Linked DNA regions of Homo sapiens. The protein of the gene in region 2 interacts with the protein of the main gene of each other region in a pairwise test. Each region holds a gene or a part of one and is shown on either strand. Other genes may lie near its edges.

Region 1 (3,824 bases), on a different chromosome or scaffold from region 2:
CAGGTGGAGGGCAGTTCCCACAGGGACGCACTGCGGGTACGACCTGGACGTGTCCCCAGGGAGCAGGTGGAGGGCAGTTCCCACAGGGACGCACTGCGGGTACGACCTGGACTTGTCCCCATGGAGCAGGTGGAGGGCAGGTCCCACAGGGACGCACTGCGGGTACGACCTGGACTTGTCCCCAGGGAGCAGGTGGAGGGCAGTTCCCACAGGGACGCACTGCGGGTACGACCTGGACTTGTCCCCAGGGAGCAGGTGGAGGGCAGTTCCCACAGGGACGCACTGCGGGTACGACCTGGACTTGTCCCCAGGGAGCAGGTGGAGGGCAGTTCCCACAGGGACGCACTGCGGGTACGACCTGGACGTGTCCCCAGGGAGCAGGTGGAGGGCAGTTCCCACAGGGATGCACTGCGGGTACGACCTGGACTTGTCCCCAGGTGCCAGGGCCAAGTAAGAAGAAAATGTGCCTTCCTTCCTATTATACCATTTTCTGTTTTGGTCTTGTTCTCTTGATAATATAGGTAGGGAAACAGAATCAGCAATTATTAGAAGGCCACCTCTACTTTGTCCTTAAAGGAGTTGGCAATGGTTTGACCAGAATCAAAGAAGTATATATTTTGAAGATTAAGAGTTTAAAACAGTTTAAGAAAAAAAAAATTTATAGGTACCATTTAGCTTTCTAGTTGAAAACCAACACATCTGCCTTTGGGGTCAGAAGCAGCTATATCTAGGAGAGGGATACTCCTCTTTATAAAAGATGAAGGAGTTCTAAGGAGTTTATCAGGTCAAAAGACATTCCTTACATTTTCTGGATGGCATCCTAGTAATATTACAACAGTAGTATCTAACTCTTGCTAAGTACTTAACAAGGTGCTGGGTAGCAGTCTAAGGGTCCCATGTCCAATTCAGTAGCCATGGCAACTCATAGTTATCACATAACTAATTATATGTGGCTTTCAGCCTAAAACTTCCTAGAAAATAAAACTAAAAAAATTAGAAACAATATTATAAATGCAACGGAAACTATACAGGCAATATCCTATTAGTGTATCAAAATTTTAACAAACTAAACACAGTATTAAATTGCAATTTTTTTTACTTTTCAATAAAATACTTGCTAAACAGTCTTGTCTGAAATTATAAATTGCCCAAAGTTAACCATAAATGAGTCATTCTATTGAATTTAACAAACATTTAACTTTGCAAGAAATAAATTTTTATTTTTCTTCATTATCATACAGCATTTAAGAATAATAAATCTGTCTTGAGGTTTCAAATCTGAGATATCTATGGCAAGTTTATAAAAAGTACATTGATCAAGGTACAATTTTTAACATTAATATACACATTCCATAATCTCATCTATTTAACATTAACACAGGCCTTTGTTGTTGTTATTTTTTTCTCCCTACAATATTTCCTGACTCTGTAGGACAGTGGTCCTCAGTTGGGGGTTGACTCTGTCCCCTAGGGGCATCTGGCAACATCCGGCATAACTGTGGGTGTCACATGAGAGGGACGCTGCTCACCATCCTGCAATGCACAGCACAGACCCCACCACAGGGGTTTTATCCAGCCCAAATGTCAACAGTGTCAAGTTTAAGCAACTCTTACCGAGTGGGACTCAATTCCCATTTTATGAACACCTCTGTGCTCACTGTAATTCTGAAAACACAGACTTTGCTAACTGGTAAATACTATTTACAAGAAGATTCAACCTAATCAATATCACTTATCAAAAGCAGTGGCTGACTGTAAGTATCAACATGTTTCCAGAATGAATAAACCACACAATCAACTCAGAATGATACAAATTAGGGTCCATATCATTTAATTTCCCTTGAACCTGCTCTGCTAGTTTAATCTGCTAATATGAAAGTTAATTAAGACTGTTTTGAAGGAGCGAGACAATAGTTTCCTTTGCACATTTTTCTGAACTATGAGAAAAATTTAATGATACATAAAGCACCTGGCAAATAGCAAGTCCTCTGCAAGTGCTCCGGAAATGTTTATCACAGCCTACTAAAAACAGAGTTTCACTCATTTGTTCAAATTTCCCATAAGTATGTATCTGCAAAGATTAAATTAAGTTTTATTTGCTCGCTCTCATTTTACAATAATCTCTCACAAATGTCGCTTAGAAACAGAACACATATCCAGGGTGTGTGATACAAAATTATAAGTTAGTTTTTTCCACACAAGTTTTAAAGTATCAGTGTATATAATACATTAATGATAGTACCAAATGATAGAACTAAATTTAATGATAAATTAATGATAGAACTAAATTTAAAAGGAAAAAGTCATTCTAAGTTTGTTAAGCAGATAAATTTTTCTGTAATCATTTACCTACATATTCACATTCTGTATATTTTCTCATGGTCAACAAACTGATTCAAATGATTTAAGTTATCCCACCATTTAAAGAGAAAAGTCGCTGCAATAATTTTAAACCATGGCGTTATCTTAATTTCACCACTGGCTGCTTTTTTCAGAAGTTCTTTTAGTTCTTCCTTTGACACATAACAATAGCTTTTAATCTCATTGGGATCTGGATTCAAAGTTACATTCTTCCTCACCAACAAAATGTAATCAATTTCATGTTCACCCCAGATACCATCAGACTGAGCTTTGTAGTGAATTCGTGTTAAATAATTAATTTCTTCTGGAGGAACCTAAGACATTAAAAAAAAAAAAGTAATTAAAACATCGGCCACCGTAACAAAAAAAATCTAAAATTAGCTCACTGTATTACAGCGATATCTCGAACAGCAGTATAGTTTTAGGATTAGAACTTGGTTAAAGCATTAATCTCCTATCAATGGTATATGGAAATCTTAATATTATATATGGAAAAATGATTACATCATTAGTTTCAAGTGTTTGCGTTTTTTTCCCGATCAGATAAGTTTTTTTTTTTTTAATGTTAAAAAAAGGGGCAGTCACTCAAACTAGAAATGTGACATTCTTCTTTTTCTTCTTTTTTTTTTTTTTGTGAGACGGAGTCTTGCTGTCACCCAAGCTGGAGTGCAATGGTGTGATCTCAGCTCACTGCAACCTCCGCCTCCCAGGTTCAAGCGATTCTCCTGCCTCAGCCTCCTGAGTAGCTGGGATTACAGACGTGCCGCCCCACCATGCCCAGCTAGTTTTTGTATTTTTAGTAGAGACGGAGTTTCACCATGTTGGTCAGGCTGGTCTCGAACTCCTGACCTCGTGATCCACCTGCCTCAGCCTCCCAAAGTGCTGGGATTACAGGCGTGAGCCACCACGACCGGCCCGACATTTTTCTTTTTCATATTTTAAAATTGCTTTTTGGAAAATATAGATAAGAAATACTTTATTTATCCAGGTCTTATTTAAGGGGGACAATTCCAAGAAAAAAAATGATTTCAATTAAACCAATGAGATTTATGGTTCATATTCCTAAGAGTTTCCATCAGAAAATCTTCACCTTTTTTGTAGGTGGGGAGTTTTAGGTGAGAACTGGAAAACCTGTCAGTTAAATTCTACAAGAGCTGTAACACTTGAAAATACTCATCTTAGATTTGATCAATTATAGAAATATTCAACCTTATATAGTGCTTAACAGATCAATCCATCCCCGTATTGAGCTAAGTTTTGACAAGTGATATTAAGAAATTAAAATTTAAATAATCTTTATTCAAGATGGTTTGTGGGGCTAACTCATAACTCCGGAGGTTACCAAGCAGAGAACTACATTTGAATTTAAAAATTTTATTAAAAACCTTTTTATAGTATGTTTAGGTTTCAGCTTGTATGGTTGTGTAGGAGAGCTGGTTACCTCTTCCAAGGGAATTCCTAGC
Region 2 (3,824 bases):
CAGCCACAGCTTGTTGTTCCCCGATGGCTGTACCCCTTTTCTTTCAAATTAACAGAAGCCTCACTTTTCAGCTAGGGACACAGCTGTCCAGAACAAAGATTGCACTGCGGCTGGGGGCAGCCATGTGACAGAGTTCTGGTCAATGAGGGGTAAGCAGAGGTCTCCTGCAGCCACTTTGGGGAACTTGAAAAGACAGCAGGAGCAGGCCCTTGGCCCATCTTTTTCTTTGTCCTTTCCACTGCAGACTGGAAGGCGGTGTGATGGCTGGCATTGGAGCAGCCATCCTGGGCCACGACGTGGCTTTGGAGATGAAGGTTTTTCTCGGCAGAGCAACAAGATTCAAGTCTGAATCCACCAAGAGCACCAAAGAGCAGAATCAGCTCTGGGCTGCCCACCTCTAGACTTTCACATGACAGACAAACTTCTGTCATATTCAAATCACTGTTATTTTGGGTCTTTGTTACTCATAAACTACATAGTAACAGATCCACTGAACATTATTATTAAATAACAGTAAACATCTCAGGACATCTGATACAAGAATGACCTTCTGAATCTCTCTACAAGGGTCATAAAGAACACAATGGGCAACACCTATAAGAATGGCTTTACAACAGCTAGAATTTTTTTTTTTTTTTGAGAGATGGAGTCTTCCTCTGTCACCCAGGCTGGAGTGCAGTGGTGCAACCCTGGCTCACTGCAACCTCTGCTCCCTAGGTTCAAGCGATTCTCCTGTCTCAGCTTCCAAATTTTATAAAACAATTTTACATTTTAATCCCTGTTAAAGGGTGAAAGGACTCAGAACTTTGACGCCTGAGAAAGAGTTGCAGGTTTTGGGGTGATGGCTCAGAGAAGTTTTCGGAAGGAGATGAGGTCTCCTTTTACATGTTTAAGCACTAGGGCACGAAAGAGGCCACAAATTTGTTCTGTGTGACCCCATGGGGGCCGGGGAAGGAAATCTAGGACTGACTGGTGGAAGTCATGGGCAGTCAGATGTGGACTCAATTTAGTGTAAAGAGGAACTTTTGAATAGCTGGAGCTGTCCACAGAGGTCATCCTGGGAGACGGTGACCCTCAGCACTGGAAGCCATCAAGCACAGGTGGACAGAACTCAACGGAGCTGTTTGAAAACGGATTTAAGCATTAGATAGACAGCTGGACCAGAAGATCTTTGCAATTCCTTTTAACTCTACATTCCATGACTCAATCTCCTTTACTTGGTTGTAAACGCCATAAAAGCAGGATCCACTTCTGATTCATTTTTATAGTTCGCAAAGCATTCACTAATAGATTGATATCAAATGAAAAAGATGGAAAAATGGAATGAATCGTGATTAGGAAGTAGCAAGAGGGCAGGATGAAAGAGATCATTTGCTAGGTGACACAGAATGGCCCTTTGTAAAACTGTACTTTCTGCATTTGACTATAGCAATTCTTAATCTTCCTGGGATCCTCTCACACTCTTACGTGCTAAAAACCATAGGCCCTGCCCCCAAAACACTGCAAATACATTAGTAAAATTGTGCATACGTTTTCCTGGGGTACATGGACTCCTCTGATACTTATCTATGGACCATCCCAGGGGCCAGGAGGGCTTCTGTACCCCAGTTTAGGAACGGATGAGCTGAGCTCTGCGTAAGAGGTACTGGTATCTGTCTTACATTCGTGATATGAAAAAAGCTGGAAATACCTAGTTTTACTATCAATTTAATATTAATTATGAAAGAAATGGTTTGGCTGATGAAAGCTCCTCCCCTACAGATCTCTTCATTCTATTTTGGGCTCCTGACAGCTACAAAATGTGACACTGGTACACGAGAACTGGGAATCCAGGCTAAAGGTTAGAAGTCTCCGTTGCTCAGTTCTAACACCGGCAGCAGCTGTTCAGGCTGGGATGAGCCACAGCACGCGGCAACGTTGCCAGGATACAAACACCACCAGGGAAAGAGGCCTCTGCAACTGTACGTGCGTTAATTCAGGCACCATTTATCACCAATACAAGACTGAGAAACACAACTGCGGGGAATATCCTGGTGATGCTAAGGGCAGCGACAGTTCTCAGTGGATTCTGCTGGAGTGTTTCTTATTTTTTTTTTCAGAGGCAGGTCTTGCTCTGTTGCCTAGGCTGCACTTGAACTTCCGGGCTCAGCTGAACCTCCCAAGTAGCAGGGACTACAGGTGCGTGCCACTGCACCCGGCTCTGTGTATTGTGTATTGTTAATTCCATTGACTTGTATGACACCGTTTAGACCAGCCCACTTTTCCTTTTAAAAGAGAAACTGGTTCCCTCTCTTTTGAAGCTCTATCAAGATCTGCTTATTTTGGTATGTGAAGAAAAGTTACCTTCCCTTGTCCAGAAGCCCTGCTCTGGGGAAGGGAGGATAAAGTCATGGATGAGGGTAGCACTGCAGAGGCTGAGAAATTTGGGGAAAATTCCCACTCACGTAAGCTGACACTCCGCAGGTGTACACTTGATGCTATGGGTATACTGTCCTATCTAAAAATAAGTATTATTTAGCATAGGTAAGCACAGAATTTACTAGAACCAACAAGGAGTACTCAATTAACTAAAAGGCAGAGGGTACGCAGGTGTCTAGCATGGCCGGGTGGCTGTGGCAGTGGGAACCAGGTCCCTTCTCTAGTTTCTGTGCCTCTGTTAAGGTTGGAGCACCTCTCATTCCACCCTAACAGCAAGGTCCAAACTGCCCATGAGGAACCCTTTCCATGAATTAAAGGCCAACCTTCCTCGAGTGCCCACAAATCACTGAACCTCGCTCAGACCTTCCCCTCTACTGGGGATTCGACTCGGTTTCACTGGGATTTCACCTCTAAGAAACTGAAGTCATCAACCAACTGGGCCTCTGGAGAAAAACAAAAAGCCTATAAACCACCATCCCCCAGACACATCACATCCTCATACCCACACCTACCATGCAACCACAGGGACACACATACCTCCAAACTCCTCTACATTCAGGAGGCCACAAATCCAGGCAGTAACAAGCCTCCAAACTCACTCAGATCAGAGGAAAAGAACATTTTAAAAAGTAAGAACACAGCCAGGCACAGTGGTTCACACCTGTAATTCCAGCACTTTGGAAGGCCAAGGCGGGCGGATCATCTGAGGTCAGGAGTTCCAGACCAGCCTGGCCAACATAGCAAAACCCCATCTCTCCTAAAAATACAAAAATTAGCCAGATGTGTTGGCAAGCACCTGTATTCCCAGCTACTCAGGAGGCTGAGGTGGGAGAATGGCTTGAACCTGGGAGGCGAAGGTTGCAATGAGCAGAGATTGTGCTGCTGCACTCCAGCCTGGGCAACAGAGCAAGACTCTGTCTCAAAAAAAAAAAAAAAAAAATCAGATTAAAAAAATAGATCAGATCATACCACATTAAGTGATTCTGGTGAGAGGTTACAATATCAGATCCCAGTTGATAGTTTATAGGTACAGAACAATCTAATTCTATTCTAAGACTGATTTAAGCGACAGGGATTTTAAAAAAATTACATCTGGGCTCACACCTATCTATAATCCCAGCACTTGGGATTGGAGGATTGCTTGCTTGAGGCCAGGAGTTCAAGACCAGCCTGGGAAACGTAACAAGAAAAAACATAAACATGAACAAAAAAATAAACACAAACAAAAAACCGTAAACAACAAAACAAAAAACCATATATATATATATATATATATATATATATATATACGCACGCACACACACACACACACATATACACATACATATATATGTGTATATATGAGAAAACAACTACGTAGAACAAGGGAAGGGGAAGGGAATTAATAGGTTCAGCTACTAACAGTT

What was found.
Region 1: the proteins of MLYCD (region 2) and IDI1 come close enough for resonance energy transfer, tested with the Homo sapiens proteins (one large-scale study listed by BioGRID).

What each region holds. Positions count from the first base shown.
Region 1 is NC_000010.11:1,038,830-1,042,653, forward strand, and holds the end of IDI1 (isopentenyl-diphosphate Delta-isomerase 1), read right to left. Parts: coding exon 3,803-3,824; intron 2,676-3,802; coding exon 2,358-2,675; 3' UTR 590-2,357; downstream 1-589. UniProt on the Homo sapiens protein: Catalyzes the 1,3-allylic rearrangement of the homoallylic substrate isopentenyl (IPP) to its highly electrophilic allylic isomer, dimethylallyl diphosphate (DMAPP).
Region 2 is NC_000016.10:83,902,039-83,905,862, reverse strand, and holds part of MLYCD (malonyl-CoA decarboxylase, mitochondrial), read right to left. Parts: intron 1-3,824. UniProt on the Homo sapiens protein: Catalyzes the conversion of malonyl-CoA to acetyl-CoA.